Linked DNA regions of Homo sapiens. The protein of the gene in region 2 interacts with the protein of the main gene of each other region in a pairwise test. Each region holds a gene or a part of one and is shown on either strand. Other genes may lie near its edges.

Region 1 (7,000 bases), on a different chromosome or scaffold from region 2:
TGTGATGTCATCTGCTGTTGGCTTTACATGGCTAAACAGATGCAGAAAGATACCCTCTGAGGGTTCCCCAAACTAACAGCAATTTAAAAACAGAATATAAAGTGTGCTCAGTGGATTTTTACAAATGGTATTCTGCACTTAATGCTGACCAAAAAAAGAGGACTGATTCATAATGTGAGAGTGTCAAGAGTTCTTCAGAGAAAGTGAATAGAAATAAGGGAAAGGAAAGCTGTGCAGTCTCAAATGTGCTAAACTTAAAAAAAAATTTCAAAAAGTTTACAAAAAGCATAAGAGAAAAAATTAGTATATTCTGATAGCTATAGCTTCTGAAAGGAACTCCACTTGAAAATGTAATAGTTAGCAATATCTGAATAAATTTGTGGTTTTCTAGGAAGCTCAAGTTTTAAGAAGCCACTAACAAAAAAAGAAAAAGAAGCAGATGAACTAAGTAGGGAATACACAGAAGTGGAATAAACACAGCCCACGTGTGCCCTCTTCATTCTTCCACTGCTCTCTGTCTGATCAGATCTTTCCAGGACCAGTTCAACTCTCCTCCACAAAACCTTCCTTCTCCAATCCTGATTATACTGACCTCTCCCCCTTCCCAACTCTGTGTATTTGGCAATTACTTTCTTGCCTCCCCAGTTCAACTTTCAGTTATGAGACTGCAAGGCCTATGTCACACACATCTTGGGGTCCCCAGGGTGCCTATAAATAGTGCCTCCTAAAGAGCAGATGATAAACATGTGCCAATGGAATCAAAGAAGCCAACCAGTGTTTTTAGAAGGAGGCTAAAGCAGATATAAAAAAACATAGATTTTGAGTATGCACTGTAAATTATACTAATACCCAATCCAATTCAAATCAATTATGTAACCAGTAGAATGAAGAGGCACAGTCACCTGAAATTGCAAAAATAGCACAGTACCTGCAGGAGACTTTCTATAGCATGAAAGCCTCGAATTAAATTCAGAGCTCCACATAAAAGACTAAGGATAAATCCTACAATCCCTGACAGAGTTGCTGGTTCCAGTCGCTGGTGAGCTGGAAAATAAAAGAAATAGTTAGAAATGAACACCAATACCTCACAAAGATGAACTTAGGTAAAACAGAAATTCACTGCTCAACTTAAATGGGTCAAGCAGATACTTCATAGAATTATTTAACACCATATATTCACAATTAAATACTGTTATAAAATGAAAAATGCTTGACAACATAAAAGCTTCATTTCCCTGAAAAATTAACTTATTTTTCTCTTTTTCCTTTTTTTTTGAGACAGGGTCACAATCACAGCTCGCTACAAGCCTCAAACTCAAGGGCTCAAGCGACCCTCGTGCCTCAGATTCCCGACTATCTACGATTACAGGCACGTGCCACCATGCCTGGCTAATTTTTTCTTGAATTGTTTATAGAGACAGAGTCTCACTATGTTGCCCAAGCTGGTCTTGAACTCCCGGCCTCAAGTGATCCTCTGACCTTGGCCTCCCAAAGTGCTGGTATTACAGGCATGAGACATTGCATCTGGCCTTTCTCTATGTTTTTAACAAAGACATGTAACTTGCATTTGGGATAGACAGTGCTAAGGGATGCTCACAACCGGCAGTAAATCATTTAGAAAAAACCTTACTGCATAAATATGTCTACTATTTGCAGGTAGGTGAAAGTATTTGTAAAGGTGACTTTGCTTGGAAATTCATTGCATAATCCTACTTTTTCTGAAAATGCTTAGGAAACATTTTAAAGTACAAACATAGCTTACTTTTAAGCAAAACTTTGCCTTATCTGGGTTCTAGGGCTATAAATATCACTGGATACATGTGAAAGCTCATATATAATCAGCAATCTGAACTCCAAAACAGAATGGAGTCTTATAGCTATGAAGTTCCTGGTCCTCTGAATAACACTGGAAGGTAAAAATGACAAAACACCAGCTGAATAAGTGACCATTTTAGTTTCATAAATACATTCCCTTATCTTCCAGGGCTGCAGCAGCACAAAAGTTATACAATAGCTTCCCTTCATCATCATCTTACGCTTAATAGAATTAACAACAGGGTCTACATGAAAACACATAACTAAATACATAATCATCTAGACCTCAAACAGGAGACAGAGGGAAAGACAACAGAACCACATTTAGAGTATTTTATTTAAATCACTGAAGTGTAAACGCCCTAACAATTAAGTTAATGAGGTGGAACATTAATATAAGGGCGGGTTTAAATCTCTGCAACTTATATTCAGCCATTATAGCAGAACATCTTCCCTAAACAGTTATAAAAACACAAGAATCTACATATCACAAAAAAGTATTTATTCCCCAAGTTCAGCAGAAAGTGCTTATATAACATTTTCTTAAACTTCTCTGGTGCCCAAGCTGCCTGCTCTCAATCAATTTCCTTGATATTGTAATATGACAACAGAAAATTAAATGTCACTATTCAATATTGCTTCCAAGTGTTATATCAGTAAAGAAAAAAAAATTCACGATTTAAAAATCTATCTAATTCGTCTATACATTTAAAGGCATAAAAGCCTTTAAAAAGCATAAGTCTCCTTTAACAAGAACACAGTACACCTTTGCTGAAGGACAGCTGGCGTTGTGCCAAATCACTGTGGGGAAGAAATTCTAGAGATTCCCCCACTTCCGCCCCCACCCACTTCCCAGGTTCTGTGGCTTGTTCCTTGAGAAGTTATCAAGAGAATACTCCATCTGCCCACAACATAAGAAGGTGACACTTCTTAATAATTTCTCATTTTAACAAACTGAACTAGATATTTAATCACATTTTAATGTATTAACTATTTGTTATTTTTTTTACTTCAGTAAAACAGATTTTAGATCCACTATTATCCAAAAATGCTTAATTTGGCACCATTCTAGGTACTATAATATTTGGTGTAGAATGTTTGTAACAATAACAAATAAGAGGCAGTGTAGAAAAACAATAATTTTGCTGAATCCAAAGCAGTGTCATCTGGTCAGTTTTTGTTTTGCTTTTGTTATTATTGCCTTCTCCTATAAAGTCTTTTCTTTAGTCTTCTTGAACCCAAGGATGGCATGTTGATAACAAAATTAAATGTTTCTGAAAATGTACCAATGGTTTATGGAGACTCTGCAAAAGTTCCTAAAGAAGTAAGAATAAACCCCTTAGAACCAAAGGAACCAAAGAGCTATTGGTTACAGTAAATTAATATATTTATTCAGTAAATACTTTCTGGCATGGTTCTGTGTAAGATGCTATGCTTTCGAAGATACAAAAATTGAATTACATATTCTGCCCTCAAGGCACTTCTAGTCTTTTATAAAAGAGATAAAACAGATAAGTATATGAAAGTAATAAGCATTCTAAGCTAAAAGAGGCAAGGAATGATGAAGTGGAAAGATAAAGTAGGGGGAGGGTGGTCTAGAACCAGGAAAGAGCTTTGAAGATAGATAAAATGTAGTCAGGTACAAAGGGGAAGAAATGCATTCCACGCAGAGAAAAGAATGTGAATGTGATGGAGATGGAAATGGGAGAAACGAGTAACAACAGCATCAACAACTACTACTTCTACCAACAGTGACTGCTCTCAACACGCCAGGCACCAAGTGCTTTATATACTTGGTCTCACTGTATCCTTCCAACAACCCAATGCAGTAGGCACTATAATTATCCTGGTTTTCTGCCCCACCCCGCCCCCTCCCCACCCCTCCCAGAATAGGAAAGGTTTAGGGACATTAAATAATTTGCTCATGGGCACAAAGTAAGTACGTGAACTGGGATTTAGATGATTCTGGAATTCATGTTCTCAGCCATTCTGCTATAGGGCATTGCTAGTGGTTTGGTTTGGCTCAAAGCGATGTTTGTGACAAGTGGGGAGAAATAAGGTCAGAAAGGGAGGTGGACACAAATTGATAGTATACAATTCTAGGCTAAGAATTATGGAAAATTAGACAATGGGGAACCACTGAAGAACAAGATTCTCATATGATGAAGGTTATACTTAAAGAAGATTAATCTATTAATGGGTTGTAAAGAGATCAAAAGTAAGGGAGGGAGAAATAATATTTTTCTGAGTACCTTCTCACTAAGCACCCATTGTCTCATTTACCCTTCAGAATGGCATACTTCATGAGGTAGAAATGACTAACTTCTCTGTGACTGAACTGGAATGACTAACTTTTCTGTGCCTAAACTTTCTCATCTGTCAATTAAGATTAAATTATTTTCTATAAGTCAGACAGCCAGAAGGGCCATCTTCACAATTAGCACTTAGGTCTATCTGACTGCAGAGCCCATGCTCTTTCTACAGTTCTACATTAGGAAGTTTGTGGGAGAGTCACTGCAAAAGACTGACTGAAATCAGGGCCTGAATCAGAATAGTCACAGTAGAAATGGGAATCTGAGTGCTTGGGAGTTCATTAAAGAATAAAGCTAAAATTAAAAAAAAAAAAGAAATGGGGAAAAAGAAGTAAGATGTCATGGAGGTTAAAATTATTAGACTTGGCAACTAATTAGATGTGGCAAACAAAAGGGGGAAAAAAATTCAAAGAAATGTTGAGGTTTTACCTCTAGGTGATCGGAAAGATGAGAGTACTGAGCAACAGATCCACAGGAAGAAACTTAAGTTTGATAAAAAATGGGGACATTTTAACATCATATTTGAGGTGATGGTGGGCCGTGTTTAACAAGCAACTGAAGAATGGAATAGCTGGGAGAAGCAGACGAGGTCTGCAACTGAAGGGAAAGGTTTAAATGAGCGTCAAAGAAAGAAGCAGGCCAAGGGAAATCCTTGGTAAACACTGTCAGTAAGGGATGGAAGAAGAGTCAGGGAAGGCAGATGCAGGAGAATCAAGTGAAACCTAGGAAGGAGAGACCATCAAGAAGAAAGATATGGCTAACAGTGCCTATAGATAGGCCAAAAAAAATCTGACCTTAAAGTAAAAAGTATTAGACTTATTGAACAGGAGATGCTAGGATTCTCCTTAAAATTTTTTTTTTTTTTTCCAGAAAAGTGGTTGAGGGCTTTTTAGATCTCACAAATAAGTGAGAACATGCAATGTTTGTCTTTCTGTGCCTGGCTTATTTTACTTAATGATCTCCAGTTCCCTCCATGCTGTTGCGAATGACTGGATCTCATCTTTTTCATGGATGAACAGTACTCCATTGTGTATATGAACCACATTTTCCTTATCAAATTCAGATTGCAAGAGGTTGAACAACTGGCGATGTTAAGAGGTGGAAGCATTAAGTGAATACTACTGAAGTTAAAGGAGAGAAAAACAGGATGAAAGCTTAACAGAGATAATAGGATTGAGAAAATAATTCTTTTTTCTCTTACAGTGTTGGAGGGAGGGAGGAAGACTTGAATACATACATAGGTGGAATGAAATAATTCAGTGAAGATGAAATAGAAGAATCAAGAAAAAGGAAAAATAATTGATGAAGCAAAGTCCCAGAATAGTCCTTATGACGATTCAAAGAGATGGTACCATTCGAAATCTCAAAGATGCCCACAATGCCTAGGGAAACAGACTGTGGAAGATAAGAGAGAAATTTCAAGTCAGTTCCATCTAAATGAGCCTAATTTATTACTGAAGTGTGACTGAATGAGACTAACAGTCTGGCACAAAAACACACTATTCTTTTCATCAGTGAGGCCCTTCTTTATCATCACCACCTGTAAAAATCATGCATATCCTTCAAGGCTCCAAGACCTGAGTCTTCCTTCTTACCTCTTTTGGAGCATGTATCACATTCTACTTTGTGTTTTACTTATTGGATTGTATTTCCCTTTCTCATTCTGAGTACAGTTAATGTGTTTACTGTATTTCTAAAAAATGCCTCCACAAAATTTAGCATAATACTTTAGAGAAAAAAAATGATAAATACCTGTTGGATTATGAAGGGGATGTGTGTGTGTGTGTGTGTGTGTGTGTGTGTGTGTGTGTGTAAGAAAGAGAGATTAGTAAATCTATTTGGCTTGTGGGCACCAGCCAAAACAGAGCAGCATTTTCAGGCAACTGACAAATTTTCTAGAAAATGATAAAATAGATGAAAAATATACAAGTGTCAAAGAAACTGACAGAAGTGTTTCTATCAGTTTAAACCCTAAATTTAGGGTTTTGTGAAGTTTTTTTTTTAAAGCACAACATAAAAGTAAAAAGACTAACAACACTAAATGTCGGTGAAGATGTTGAGTAATCAAAATGCTCACAAATTGCTTGTTGGGAAAGTAAAATCTTACAACTACTTCAGAAAACTGGCAGTTTCTTAAACAGGCAACCTTTTGACCTATCAATTCCACTCCTAATATTTACTCAAGGGAAATGAAAATATATGTCAACAAAAGGATGAATGTTCATCGTAGCTTTATGTGCAATAACAAAAACTGAAACAAGTTTACGTCCATCAGCAAGAGAATAAATAAACAAATTGTGGTACATTCATACAATGGAATACCGCTCAGGAATAAAAAGGAACAAATTACTGAGACAGGCAACATGTATGTATGACATCATGCTGTGCAAAAGAAGCTGAACACAATAGTCACACAATGTAGTCTTCTTTTATATAAAGTTCTGGAACAAAACAAAGTTCAAGTGGAAAAAAATAAAAACAGTCGTTGTCTAGAGGATGGTGGAAATTGACTGAAAAGGGACACAAAGAAACTTTTCGGGGGAGATGGAAATGTCCTATATTGTGATAAGGGTGTTTAGTAATCATGTCTTTTTATTCTGTATTTTTGATGCTTTGACCTCTTGGGCCTTGCTGACCATGGAAGAACTGCCTCTCCCAGGGATAGCTAATTCCTAGTGATGGCAAACAACTTGTCTGAGTCCACCTTTCATACGCATTCCAATCAATCCAGACTCACACTACCAACCAACTCCTCTACAAGGCTCTCACAGCCAGGGCCATTATTTCCCTATCCCAATCATCCCAGGGCCACATGTCAGACAACCAGAGATAGAACCTATGCCCCAGAGTCCATTGAAATTATTCAAACTAGC
Region 2 (7,146 bases):
TTCACCATGTTGGTCAGGCTGTTCTCAAACTCCTGACCTTGTGATCCACCCGCCTCGGCCTCCCAAAGTGCTAGGATTACAGGCGTGAACCACCGCACCTGTCCCATCATGTGATTATTATGTATTACATGCCTGTACCAAAATATCTCATGTGCCCCATAAATATCTAACCTACTATGTACCCACAAAAATTAAAAATTGTCCAGGTGTGGTGACTTATGCCTGTAATCTTAGCACTTTGGGAGCCAAGGAGGGAGGATCGCTTGAGCTCAGGAGTTCAAGACCAGCCTGGGCAACATGGCAAAAAAAACATCTTTACAAAAAATACAAAAAATTAGCCAGACATGGTGGTATGTCCCTGTAGTCCTAGCTACTCAGGGGTTTGAGGTGAGAGGATCACTTGAGTCCGGGAGGTTGAGGCTGCAGTGAACTGTGTTTGTGCCACTACACTCCAGCCTGGGCAACAGAGTGAGACCCTGTCTCAAAAAAAAATTTAAAAACCAAAACAATAAAAACAGCAGTGGCAACTATTGTTTATAGAGGGTTTATGGTGTACCAGGCCCTCTGCAAGAATTTCTAATGGAATTCTCTTAAGAACCCTATGTTTTACCATGAACCCTACTTTTGGATGAGGAAAATAAGCTTGGAGAGGTTAAAGCACCTGCCCAAGCTCACACAGGTGACAAGTGGGAGGCCCCAGGTCTAAGCAGTGCTGAAGACGTCCCGCCTCAGGCAAGGATCACTTCCCCAGCACTTGCCTCATCATCTGCCATCTGACCTGTGGACCCACTGTCTGCACACGTTGAGCCTGGGAGTACGCACCTGGGAAGTCTTGGGACTTTCCTGTTTAAAATCTCCCCAGAGTGGGGTGGATTCAGGGTCTACAGCTCACCTCTGTCCCAAACTCATGCAGCTTTGAGAGACCAAGATATTCAGAACCGAGTGTGTTTTCTTTTCTTTTTCTTTCTTCTTTCTTTCTTTTTCTTTTTTCTTTTTGTTTGTCTGTTTGTTTTTTGAGACAGAGTCTTGTTCTGTTGCCCAGGCTGGAGTGCAGTGGTTCAATCTCGGCTCACTGCAACCTCCGCCTCCTGGGTTCAAGCAGTTCTCCTGCCTCAGCCTCCTGAGTAGCTGGGATTACAGGCTCCCGCCACCACGCCTGGCTAATTTTTGTATTTTTAGTAGAGACGGGGTTTCACCATGTTGGCCAGGCTGGTCTCAAACTACTGACCCGCCTCAGCCTCCCAAAGTGCTGGGATTACAGGCATGAGCCACCATGCCCGGCCCTGAGTCTGATTCTTAAGCTGGGTAAGTTTCCATGTATTAATTTTATTATACTTTATAACTGATAGATATACAGTCTATATATTCTACCAGTGCACAAGATATCATAATAGAAAAGGCCATGATGATAAAGTGAAAGGGAGAGATGGCATTTATGCTAACATTCACGATTTGAGTAATCAAATGAGTGAACGAATGAAGCAATCTACTTTAAAAAAGAGGGCCATCAAAGCTGGAAGTGTAGAAGTGTCCTTTCTTTTACTATCTATCCACCCACCTATTCATTCCTCTATCGTCCCCACCCTACTCCATCCTGCCTTCCTTCCATCCATCCAATAAATAAACATTTCCTGAGCACTCAGTCATTATAGCTGTACCTAGGGAATAGCCGCAAATAATTGACTGACACACCCTGCTCTCAAGGAGCCCTCAGTTTAGTTCAGAAATGAGGAGGCCAAGGCCCAGAAAGGGAAAGTGATTTGCCCAGGGTCACACAGCAAGTGAGGGAAATGAGGTAAAGAAGGGTGAGGGTATTCCAGGTGGAGGGGAACCCATGGGCAAAGGCTCAGACCTGTCTGCCTCCAAAGCGAGCCCCTGTCAATCACTGCCTGAAACCCGCCTCCTGGCTCTCCATGAAGGCCTGAAGAGCCTGCCTCACTCCATCGCTACTTTCATTTTTGTTATTCTTTTGGAAGGGGAGGAGGAGCCAGTGGCTGCTGCTGTCCAGCTGTTATGTCGGACCGCACATCCCAGCCCAGATGTGTCAAACTCTCTGTGATGGGTGAAGTGGCTTCTGGGCCACGAGCCACGAGCCAACGGCCAAGGAAGCGGCAGTGAAGGCTCTGTCCCAGGGGAATTAGGGGAGGAGGCACACTGAACCCGGCGGCAGGGAAGCCCATGGTTGCTCCAGCTATCAAACTGGCCTTGTAGACAATATGGTGTGTCTAGGTGGTGGGGATCAAGATCTTTGACATTCCAAAGAAATCAATACCTTTGACATATTTCCTCTGAGGGTCAGAGTCCTGGGGCATTTCCTGCCTCTCCCAGCTTCTCCTGAACCAGACAATCCCACCCCCACACATTCCCCAATCCTGGTCCAGGGTCCTGCCATTCAGTCTGGCTTCCCCAGGGCTGCTCAAGAGGGTTACACAGAGTTCCAGCTCACAGTCTTGACTTAACTCCACCCAAATATTCCTCCTCCATCCTGCCCCCAGGAGTGCTGAGACTTCCAGAGAAACAGCCTGTTCTCCAGCATCTGGAGCTGGTTTCTTGAGGGAGGTTCAAGGGCAAGCCAGGTTCCAGAGAGAGATGCTCCAGGAGGGCCTCGGTACCAGGACTCGCACGAGGCACATGATACAGGGAGAAGACACAAAACAGGGATGTCCTTTATGCTCCCCTCTCCTGGTGCAGTAGCCAGGCCAGGCCAGGGCAGACAGAAACAGAGTCTCCTGAGGAGTCCTGGGAGCTGCAGAGAGCAAAGATCCAAGTCCCCAGAAGGGCTGGGGAACAGCATCCTGGGGGTGAATCTGATAGGGTGTGAAATGGGATGTGGGAGCTTATTCAGGGGATCTGGTTTTGCCCATAAAGCTCTAGGCATCCAAGGTGCCCTAAGGATGGGAGTGGGTGAGGATGAAGACAGGGACCCTGTGATATGAAAGATCCTGAATTTTCCTTGCTCTAGAGGGGAAATCTCAAACTAGAACAATGAGAGAACTTGCTTGTAGCTTCTTCTTGCTCCCCTCTTTGACTCTCCATAGGACTCCTGCCCTTGAGCAGAGTGCACAATGGATAATAATGCCTATACGTGTTCAGTAAAAGGAACATGGCCCCAGTCCCTGTGGAAATGCCTTTTTTTTTTTTTTTGGAGATGGAGTTTTGCCCTTGTTGCCCAGACTGGAGTGCAATGGTGCGATCTTGGCTCACTGCAATCTCCACCTCCTGGGTTCAAGCGATTCTCCTGGCTCAGCCTCCCAAGTAGCTGGGATTACAGGCACATGCCACCATGCCTGGCTAATTTTTTTGGTATTTTTAGTAGAGATGGGGTTTCACCATGTTGGTCAGGCTGGTCTCAAACTCCTGAACTCAGGTGATCCACCTGCCTCAGCCTCCCAAAGTGTTGGTATTATGGGCATGAGCTACCATGCCTGGCCAGAAAAGCCTTCTAATAACTCCTTTGCCACTAAGGAAGAGGGAAATTGGGGCAGCATGTGCAGAGATCACCTTCTGAGAAAGCTTTCATGACCTGTAGCCTGGCTCAGCCTCCTGCCATGCTCTGCTCCATCATGGCGCCCACCATGGTGTTGATACTGCCTATTTCCCTCTCTGTCTCTCTCATTCGTCCGCGATTGACTGGAGGGTCAAGTGTGTTTTCTTCATCTGGGTTACCCTGGCACCAGCATAGATGTTCCTTCAGTGCCCAGTTGCTGAAGGAATGGACATGTGTATTAATGAATGAGCAAGTGAATTCCCAGCTGGTCCAGGGAAGCCGGAGGGACCTCACAACATATCGGGGCACAGACAGCACTTCTGTGGGACCCAGCATCCCCACCACCCTAAGGGATGGCCAGTCCAGGATCCTGAAAACCCCAGGATCCCTTCAGGAATCATAAGTACACCTCTTGAACACTTAGATCTGATTTTTTGGGTCTTGCTCTGTTGCCCAGGCTGGAGTGCAGTGGCGTGATAATAGCTCACTGCAGCCTTGAACTCCTGGGCTCAAGTGATCATCCCACATCAGTCTCCTAAGCAGCCAGGACTTCAGGTATGTGCCACCATGCCTGGATAATTTATTTTTTATTTTTTGTAGAGACGGAGTCTTTCTGTGTTGCCCAGGCTGGTCTCAAACTCTTGGCCTCAAGTGATCCCCCTGCCTCCGCCTCCCAAAGTACTGGAATTACAGGTGTGAGCCACCACATCCAGCCTGGGATTTTTTTAAAACAATTTTTCCCTTCCCTTACAAGGATTGCCCCAGTCTAAAGTAATTTTCTCTACAAATATAGTAAGTCCTTGAAATAGAGCAAAGTTCACTACAATGTGACCCAAACTTGACTTCTGTTCTATGCTCAGGCCCCTTCTCAAATAAAAGTGAGCAAAACTCCATTCTCTATGGGGCTGGTAAAAAAAAGTGACTGCCTCATGCTCCTGTGGTACTCTTTCTGTTTGGTCTGCTTTGTGCAGTAAGGTGTCACAATTTTTACTTTCCTGCTTTTTGTGATAGTACAGACCATCTGAAAAATACTGTTTTTCGTTAATTCTACAAAAATATTACTCCACATTTTATGTAATTGGAAAATTTATTTTTAAATTTGTATTATTATTATTACTTTTAGAGACAGGGTCTGGCTTTGTTGCCCAGGCTGGAGTGCAGTGATGCCATTATGGCTCACTGCAGTCCCAACCTCCCCAGCCCAAGTGATCCTCCCTCCTCAGCCTCCTAAGTGGCTGGGACCACAGGCATATGCCACCATGCCCGGCTCATTTTTTTTTTATTTTTTGTAGAGACGAGGTCTCCCTATGTTGCCCAGACTGGTCTTGAACTCCTGGGCTCAAGCAATCCTCCTACCTTGGTCTCCCAAAGCATTGAGATTACAAGCATGAGTCACCGCAAAGGAACATAATTGGAAATTTTTGACTGGGCATATTTATTGCATTATTGTAGAATTTTACTACATTGAGCATCTATTTTGTCCCATGTGACTGTGCTAGGTTTATGTCAATGCACAAAACTGATATGGACTCTCCTCTTATGGAACTTACTTTCTCGTGGAGGAAATAGACAATAGGCCATTAAAATAATTGCAAACTGGGTTAAGGGCTAGAAGATATCAAAAGACTAAAACAGAAAAGAACAGGGGGGTCCCACTTTAGGTAGTCAGGGAGCGTTCCCTAAGGAGGCAATATTTGAGCTGGGATCAGAAGGCTGAGATGGACAGACTGGGGGAAAAGCAGTCCAGATGACAGGAACAGCATGTGCAAGGGCTCTGAGGCAGGGCTGGAAAAGGCTTAGTCTTAAATTGGGTGAGTATGGATCCAGGAGTCCTAGAGCAATCTGAAGAAGAAACTGGGGAAAACGGAAGCCCTAGAGACAGTGCTCAAGAGTGACACCTGAGCCACAAGTTCAAATCCCCTGTGGGTCAGCCAGCTGTAGACTATTCTAGACCAGGGGCTGCAGAGGCCTGTGCAGTAGGGGGATGGCTCAAGGTAATGAGAACTCATTAAAAACCATGGAGAGCCCTTCCTGGACCCCAGAGACAGTGCAGGGTCTGCAGGACCTCGATGGCTGCAAATAGATGGGCTTAAGGACACTTTTCCCTCTTCTCTAAGAATGTGGGGTCTGGTTTGGGCCCCTTTTTCTTCATCCATCCATCCATTCATTCATCCATCCATCGATTTATTCATTCATCAACGGTTGTTAGGCACTGGGATACAGCAGTGAACAAGACAGACCAAGCCCCTGACTCAAGGAACTGTTCCCTCAACACTGGGGGAAGCAAAACCCAAATCAAACCTCTGCTCAAAACGAACTTAATGTTTTGATAGAGTAGGTATCAGAGGTCTCCTTTCTGAATAGGCACCCTGAGATTTGGGCTCCTCCAGTAGGTTTTTCATTAGATCTTTTCTAGCAGATTGCACTCTGAGACCAGAGTGCCTTAGCACTTCTGTCCTCTTTCCTGTTGGTGAGAACTTAAACAGAAACACACACAAATCTCCCCTTTTAAGGACTGTTAAAGGCCCACCCACAGACATAGGAACACCCAAACACACATACTTCTCTAATCTCCCTAAATCTCCCGAAGGCTGGGGGTGGGGGTGCCTCTCTGCTTCCCAGTTAGCTCAGGAGAAGCCAGGCTAGGCGTGTGGGGAGTAGCGATCAGCCTTAGCCCCCACCGCCTCCCCGCAATGCTGGGCTGGTCCCTGGGTCCCCGTCACTCCCACACCTGGCCTCCCCAGCTGCAGGGAGTAAACGGGTGTGCTGGGCAAACATCCTTGCAGCTTCCTGCTGCTCCCCTCTGAGAAAACAGACCTTTTCTTCCTCCTCCTTCTCCTCCCCACACCCTCCCAGCTGGGGCTTCTCTGGGATCCCAAGCCAGTTCCCTCTAGAGAAGCCAGACATCCCTTCCCCTTAGCCAGAGGAAGGAGGGGACAGCACACAGACCTAGTGTTTCCATCTGGAGAAACGACCTGCTCTCCCTCTGGTCCTTTATCCCAGTTCTTGGAGCCCAGACCCTCTCTCTCATACTGGCCAAGGGGCTGAAGGACCACAGAGTACAGTGGCTCAAGGGTGGCCACATCAGAAACCATGGGAGAGCGGGAGGGGCAGGGAGGAGATGCCCCCACATGGGACAGGAAGGGCAGCCCCCTTCTGAGGATCTCTGAGAATCGCATAAACAGAATTGCAGCAACATGAAGGTATCCTCATAGAAAGAAAAATAAGGCAGCCCAGCCACCTCCAAACACACTTGTCTTGACTTTGTGTACTCACTCTCCTGTCTGTCCAAGTGCATGCGTATTTCTTGCATAGTTGTTTTCAGGGTGAGCATACATTTTGCATTTTGCACAGAGCAACAGAGCACACATGATTTCCACATGATTTATGGCCCGTATCTGGATTTTTAAGGAGGATAGCGAATATTCTGCTCTCCATTTTCCAGACTGAGAGGCACACAGACGCCATCCCTACCCATCCTTAACCCTGGAAACATTTTCCTATCCTCATGCAGAATGAAGAAGTTGGGGGAAGGGTTGGAATGGGATCTCAGCTGGAAAGAACCTCGGATATGGAGATGGAGACCCCAGAGAAGGAAAGTGACTTGCTATGTTCACACAGCAACTCGTAGCTGAGCAATTCTCACTATCACGCCCATC
Region 3 (7,632 bases), on a different chromosome or scaffold from region 2:
ACAATCCCACTGCCCACCTGAACCCCATCAACCCCCTCCAACCCTGCTCTGTCCCTGCAGTGAGAAGGACGTTGAAGAGTGGGCTCGGAGATGACCTGGTGCAGGCACTGGGACTAAGCAAGGGTCCTGGCCTGGAGGTGTGAAGGTGCTGTATCCCGGAAATCTATCTGGACCCTGGACTGCAGTGCAGGAGATGACAGAGTGAGGAGGGCCCAGAGCAGAATTCTGGCCCCAGAACTCTGTGCCCAGGAGCCATGCCTTGAGCAGTATTAGCCGTGTGTGTATGCATGTGAGTGTGTGTGTATGTGTGTGTGTGCATGCATATGCATGTGCATGTGTGTGAGCTCCTTGAACGCACGGAGCAAAATAAAATTTTCTTAGCTAATCCAACAGGTTTCTCTTCTTTCAGGGTCCCCACCAGGCTGGGTTTGTAGCAGGAGGGAAATCCCATAGGACCAGCTTTTCCTGCCTCATCCCTCATCACCCACACAGCCATCAGCCACATTCTAAGCCATTTATTCAACGACCCTATAGAGTATAAGTATACCCAATACCTCAGACTGCTTTTGGCCCCTGGACTAGACCCTCATTGCTCCAGGCATGAGGGGCTGTGCACCCTGACAGAGCCACCCAGGGCCAGTGGCCTGTGGCCACAATGTCAATGGCTATAACCGCTTCATCTGCCGCCGCTCCTGTCGGCGCTGCCGTTTCTCATTGTGCTCTGGTGCTGGGGTGCCACTGTCTGCAGTGAACCAGGGGCCCAGCACATTCACCCACAGGAGGTAAAGGGCCCGGCCTGGAGCCTACAAGAGAAACGGTAACTTGAAGCAAGATGCAGGGAATAAAAGATGGGGAGGGTTAGATGCCCCTTCTTGGGAGCGCCCCCAGCCCACATACCAGAAGCCAGAAGGACCAGACATAGAGAGAGAAGCAGCTGAGCACCTGCACGATGGCTGTCAGTAGGATCACATCCTTAAGGTGCCTGTGGATAGAAATAAAGCTGGAAAGACAGCATATGGGCCCTTCCACCCTTTTCAAGTTGCAACTCCCTTCCACCCTTTTCAAGTTACAAGTAGCTGTGCTTCTTGGGCTATCTGGGCCCCAGCCCTGGGGCCGCTCACCTGGGCTGGCGGTGGGGGACACTCACTCTGCCATGCCCTGCTCCATGTTGAGGTCCATGCCACCATCCATCAGGGCCCCATCCTCAGAGAACGCTGCTCGTGCCATCGAGCTCATAGAGTGGTAGCTGGCCCCATACACTGCCAGACTAAAGCCCAGGGCCAACTGCAGAGCAAGAATGAGGGTATCAAAGGCCAGCCACTGACCCTACGCACTCATCCACCTCCCAGGATGGAGATACTTACCCAGGCCCAAAATGAGGCAGATGAGTAAAAGAAGACCAACGTCACAAGGCAGTAAATGGCCTGCAAGCAATCACAGGATCAGGTTGGGGTCAGAAGTTACCTCCAAACCATGGGTCTCCCTCAACTCTGACCAAGAATTAGGCCAGGCTGTGGGAGGAGCAAGGTTGTTCTTACAGGGTTGAAGAAAGGGCCCTGCTCCCTGAATCCCAAATACCCACTCTCCTCTGACACCCAACTCAGCCCAGGAAAGAAGCCTTTGTGTACTTGGAGGTAGGAAGAGCTCTCAAATTCAGCTACGACTCACGCCTTCATTTTCTTTGTGTTTTACTAGTTAGCACTTTCTCTGTGCCCAGATCTCTCATTTCTTTTTGACTGGAGCTCTCTTCTAGAGCTTTTTCGGGTACCACTCCTCGTCACCAAGCAGGGCTGAGGACTAGGGAACTGACTATAAGTGGGCATAGAAGCAAGGAGGTAGGCACTTACATTGGCCCCCAGTATGATCCGCAGGTAGAACTTCAGAGTCTCTCTGTTCTCTTCAAATATCTGCTTCTTCCCTCTCGTGCCCACTTTGCCCTTGGGCTGCAGAGGAATGATGAGATGCCGTCAGGAGGCCACGGTCCTCCTCATTCTCCCCACCAGCCTGGTGAGCTATAGAGCTCCATCCGCAACTCAGCCAGGTCCCCGTAGTGCAGAAACCTAGCAAAATCCCTGGGATGTCCACCCATCCTCCAGTCCATTCTGCCTAGGGCTGACGCCATCTCTCCAGCACCCGCAGCTAGGATCAATCGCCTCTTGCTCGCCCTGGAACAATTCAATCCTAAGCTAATACCGCCTCTGGATCCCGTGGTAGTCTGGCTTTAGGCTAACGACTCTTCCAAGGGTACTCCTGAGCGGAGTTGAATGGTGCCTCTCTCAGGCCTCCGCTGGCGTAGTCCCGATCTGGGTTAACCCCCACCTCAGGTCACTTAGATCTCTGGCCTGCCCTGGTACTGATGCCCACCCCGCTCTGGCACTAGTCCTGGTATGGTCCTGCGCCGCCATCCCCCCAGCCCAGCTCTAGCACGGTCTGGCCAGGGATGGCGCCCCGCTCTGGCCCACCCCATATCCCTTAATGTTCTTTCTCAGTTTTCACTCTCACAGCCCCTGGAGAGCTTTGCTGGTGCGGACCCCGCCCTATCCATCCTCCTTACCGCCATGGTGCGAGGCAAATACCCAGCCCGGGAAACACGGGAGAGCGACCGAAACCGCAATCACTAAGCACCACATCGGCAGCTCATGCACTTCCGGCGCAGACCGAAGTCGTCAGCTTTTGCGACGGAAATAGGTCTCACTTCCTTCCCAAGCCCCGCCCCAAAGAGGCGAGACTACATTTCCCAGAAAGCCTTGCGCAGTGGGGGCGGAGGCGGCAGGGATGCGATGGCGGAGTCGCTGCCCCTGGAGGTGAGAGGAAGCCGCCCTCAGGCCTAGCTCTGGACAGGCCCCGCCCTCGCGGTCCTGAGCTTTGGGGAGGGGCTGTCAGATAGCTAGCCCGGCCCCTCCAGCCTGGCGGAAACGACCCGCCCTCCCGATCCCGGGACCTTCTAGCTCTGGGTAACGGTTCCTCCTTTGGGCCACTCTGTCCCTTTAGCTTGGGGGACCGTCCTCCCCTTCCCTATCGGCCCCAGAAGATAGCTGCCCTGTCATCTCCGCGAGAACAGGCCCTCTGCCCATCCCCTTCCCTTGAAGTGGCTGTCTCCTCCCCGCTCAGTTCTGGAAGATGTCCGCTCCATCTCATCGTCCCGAAGGGTAACTGATCTTATCCCCATTGGTCCCTTGGGATGATCTCTCCATTTCCTACAGAGACGGCCGCCCCTTCTCCCTGGCAGTGGGAAACAGACTGCTCCCTCCCCATCAACTGCAATGATCTCTGAGTTCCTTTAACAAGGATAGGCCTGTTCCCCATTCCTAGGCCCCTAGTGATGGCCGCCCTTACCTCTTTCACTCCGTGGGATGTTTGCTCCTTCCCCTTAGCCAGGGGCAAGACCACTCTGCCCCATCTGCCAGGGAGATAACAGGTTTTGTCTTCAGTGGCCTGTTGGAATGGCTTCTCCATCTCTTTTGTCCTGAGGGTTGGCAGCCCCCTCTCTCTGCCCATGGGAAACAGGCCACCCTTTCCCATCGGTCCTGGAATGATGCTCCTGTCCTTAGCAAAAATAGGCCTGTTCCCACCCCTATTGAGCTTGCAGTGCTATCCCTTTCCCCCTTAGCTTTAGGGGCTATCTATTTCCATCCCCATAGACCCCATGAGTGACCAATCATTATCTCCAGTAGCCCCCTTGAGATGGGACTCATGGGATGGTCACTCCATCCTCATCACTGCCTCCTCTTGTCCCTCTAGAAAGGCCACCCTCTTCTTAGGTCAATGAATTGTGTCCCTTCCCGACTCACCCCAAGGGATGACAGGTTTGTTCCCCTCTCCCTTTGCTCTTGGGCTGGCTGCTTAGCCCCAGAAGACAGGATGGCCACTGTCTTAACTCAGCTCAAACAGGCTTCCGTGCCTCCCTGGAGGGATTGGGACTTGGTCAGTCCCAGTCCCCATCAATACTGTCTTCCCTATGCCTCCCTTCCTGGCCCAGAAGTCTATTCTGCCAGTCATTGTCCTCTCAGTAATGACTGCTTTATTTCCCCGACCCCTTCCCTGAGCATACTCTTGGTGAAAATAGAGGTAGAGGACTGGACTGTCCAACCTTAATTTAATCCAGTAAGCACTGGCTGAGCACTGTGCCTGCGTGCTTGGCATCTGAGAAAGGAAGGAGAGATCACAATGGGTTGGTGAAGTTAAGCTTCAAGAAGGGGATCCCAGGGAAAAGGCCCGCATAGGCAAAAGGAAATAGACATGCTGTGTGCGTAGGGCAATGGGGAGACTGGACTGGGGAAGTTTGGGGACCAGCGAGTCCAATCAGGCACAGAGGCCTGGCAGTGCTGATCCAGGAGTGGAGACTGTCCTGAGAGTACTGTGAACCCTGAAGTTTTACAGCAGGGGTGAGCTGAAACTGAAAACTGTTTTATAGGAAAAATTAACCTTGTGACAGTGTGCATAATGTATTAGCAAGGATGAACTTGGAGGCAAAGAGTTCAGGTGGGAGATTGTGGAAGGAATCCAGGTTTGGGGTGGTAGAAATCTGAGCTACTGAGGTGGGGAAGTTGCAGAGGTAGAAATTTTAGTAACAGCAATCCAGCAACCATTTATGGAACATCTAGTTGTCACACACACACTATATATATGTAAAATTTAATCCCCATGAGGCTATGATCTAGATTTTTTTAAAGTATCCCTATTTTATAGATATGGAAACTGAAACTCCCAGAGGTCAAGTACCTTGTTTAAGGTCACACATCAGTATATGTGGAAGTAGTGGAGCTGGAATTTGAATGAGTTTAGGTTAGCCTGGCCTAAAGCCTGTGCATTACACCTGTATCTGGGAGGAAGGGACAGAATGGTTTGAATAGTTGAAAGTGTTATCAGGTAGATGCACTGTTGGCATTGAAAGGGGAATTTGGGAGGAGAGGCTGTTTTGGGCTGAGGGTAGAACATGAGTTTTGGTTGAGATTAAAGTGATGGCTAAACATTTGCATGGACAGTTGGCAATATGGACTAGCACTTGGATAATAGGACAATATGGGAATATTGAATTGTTGGTTATTCCTGTGTTGGTAAACAGAAAACCAAAAGACCCAGGTCTGAGCCCTGGGAGCCACAGAAGAATCCAAAAACGAGACAATTGGGATGCAGGGAGGAAGATTCCAGAAGAAAAGAAGAGTTAATATCAAATCATTCTAGGCCTCACTGGTAACCCCTTCCCCAGTCCCATTTAGGACCTCTAACCTCACCACCCCCTAGGTGGGGGGAAGGGCCTGAGCCTCCCAGGCTAGGTCTTGCTGGGAGCGCATCTTAACAACCAGTGGAGAGGGCAAGGTGGCAGTGAAGAAGACAGAAAAACAGCAGGGTCCCAGAGCCTGAGCCATGAGGGCAGGAGGACCAAGCATGACTTCCTGAGGACCAGAGTGAGCACACCTGGCCTGCTGTGCTCTAGGTCCTATGCAAGACACTTGGCTGTGTTCTTTAATTCTCACAATAATCCATTTAAATCTCACTACAATTGCAATTTCACAGATAAGGAAAACAAAGTTCGAGAGGTCAGTTGGCAGAGTAGAGATTTGAACTAGGTTTATCTGGCCTCAATGCCCAGGCTTTTTCTACCCAGCTAGGCAGGAAGTTTGATTCTTATCAGTCAGTGCAAGCCTGCACCCAGCTCAGGAAAGGTTTGTTTACAGGAAAGATACCTGAAGCCTGGAGCGGGGAAGTGAATGCTTCGTGAAGCTTCACATCCAAGATAAAGTAGAAGCCAGGGCTCTGGTGCCCTCAGACCCATGGTGCTGTCAGCTGGAGTGGGTTCCAAAGACCTCCCACCTCTAACAGTCCCCAATGCCCTGTCTTTTTCCCTCAGATGCTCACATATATTCTGAGCTTCCTGCCTCTGTCAGATCAGAAAGAGGCCTCCCTCGTGAGTTGGGCTTGGTACCGTGCTGCCCAGAATGCCCTTCGGGAGGTAAGGCACCCACCCTCCCCCGTCCCATCCTCAGGTGTTTCTTACTTCAGCTTACTCGTGGCCCTGCTCATGTATCTCCATCCATCTATCCATCCATCCATCCATCCATTCATATGCTCATACATACACATATATACATACATTCATACATACTTGGCTCTGGGTACAGTGCTGGGGCTATACAGATAAATAAGACATAGTTCCCTAAGGAGCTCACATTCCAGTGAAGGAGAAAGACGAGTAATATGAATGATCATGCTATCGTGTGCTCAGCGCTGTGACACTGGGAAGAAAGAGTTCGACGGGGACAGCCGGGCGCAGTGGCTCACGCCTGTAATCCCAGCACTTTGGGAGGCCAAGGCGGGTAGATCACCTGAGGTCAGGAGCTCGAGACCAGCCTGACCAATATGGTGAAACCCTGTCTCTACTAAAATTACAAAAATTAGCTGGGTGTGGTGGCGTGGTGTGCACCTGTAGTTCCAGCTACTTGGAGGCTGAGGCAGGAGAATCGCTTGAACCCGGGAGGCAGAGATGGCAGTGAGCCGAGATCGCGCCACTGCACCCCAGCCTGGGCAACAGAGCGAGACTCTGTCTCAAAAAAAAAGAGTTTGACGGAACATGAAGAAGGACATCCAGAGGAGACTGGTGGTGTCAGGGAAGGCTTCCTGAAGGAACAGGATGAGAAGAAAGGTTGGGCTTCTGGGATCAGTAATAGCATAAGTGAAGGCACCATGGTGTGGAACCAATCACACAAGTTCCATTTGGCTGGAACTAAGTGAGACATGGCAGGAGGCGAGGCTAGAATGGCATCAGGCTGCAAGCTGGCAGATGTGCCAGGCAGCAGAGTTTGGCTTTCTCCTGGTGACCATCAAGGAGCCCATTAGGCAGGCAAGTGACACAGCGTGATTTGTATTAGAACTCTGCAGTGCAGAGTGGACTGGGAGAGTGAGACAGCATAGGGAGGAGGCCAGCCAGGAGGTGAATGCAGACATCTGGGCTAGTTTGAAAGGCAGGCAGTGATGGCTCATTGTTTTAATTTTGATTTGTTTATTAGTGAGGTTGCACTGTTTTTCTCATTAGTTCACCCTTCATATTTCCCCCTTTTGTTTATTCATGTTCTGTATCCATTTAACTATTAAGGTCTTAGTATTTTTCTATTCCATTTGTATGGACTTTTTCTTTTTCTTTTTTTTTTTTTTTTTTTTTTTGAGATAAGAGTCTTGCTCTGTCGCCCAGGCTAGAGTGCAGTGGCGCTATCTCGGCTCACTGCAAGCTCTGCCTCCTGGGTTCAAGCAGTTCTCCTGCCTCAGCCTCCCAAGTAGCTGGGATTACAGACACACGCCACCATGCCCAGCTAATTTTTTTTTTTTTTTTTTAGATGGAGTCTTGCTCTGTCACCCAGGCTGGAGTGCAATGGCGCAATCTCGGCTCACTGCAACCTCCGCCTCAGCAATTCTCCTGCCTCAGCCTCTCAAGTAGCCAGAATTGCAGGTGTGTGCCACCACACTTGACTAATTTTTGTATTTTTAGTAGAGATGGGGTGTCGCCATGTTGGCCAGGCTGGTCTCGAACTCCTGACCTCAAGTGATCTGCACCCACTTGGCCTCCCAAAGTGCTGGGATTACAGGCGTGAGCCACTGTGCCGCGCTTCTTTTTTTATTTCTATTTATTTATTTTTT

The links. Proteins that work in one complex are often made in the same cells at the same time.
Region 1: the proteins of CREB3L1 (region 2) and SEC22A interact in binary tests that used the Homo sapiens proteins (3 or more experiments, as listed by UniProt).
Region 3: the proteins of CREB3L1 (region 2) and TMEM208 interact in binary tests that used the Homo sapiens proteins (3 or more experiments, as listed by UniProt).

The regions. Positions count from the first base shown.
Region 1 is NC_000003.12:123,239,943-123,246,942, reverse strand, and holds part of SEC22A (vesicle-trafficking protein SEC22a), read right to left. Parts: intron 1,045-7,000; coding exon 929-1,044; intron 1-928. UniProt on the Homo sapiens protein: May be involved in vesicle transport between the ER and the Golgi complex.
Region 2 is NC_000011.10:46,280,654-46,287,799, reverse strand, and holds part of CREB3L1 (cyclic AMP-responsive element-binding protein 3-like protein 1), read right to left. Parts: intron 1-7,146.
Region 3 is NC_000016.10:67,222,147-67,229,778, reverse strand, and holds TMEM208 (transmembrane protein 208), read right to left. Parts: upstream 2,650-7,632; 5' UTR 2,561-2,649; coding exon 2,555-2,560; intron 2,061-2,554; exon of another isoform or gene 1,944-2,060; coding exon 1,848-1,943; intron 1,425-1,847; coding exon 1,365-1,424; intron 1,285-1,364; coding exon 1,148-1,284; exon of another isoform or gene 1,122-1,147; intron 983-1,121; coding exon 898-982; intron 804-897; coding exon 666-803; 3' UTR 501-665; downstream 1-500. Other genes in the region: FHOD1 (FH1/FH2 domain-containing protein 1), read left to right, coding at 61-143. UniProt on the Homo sapiens protein: May function as a negative regulator of endoplasmic reticulum-stress induced autophagy.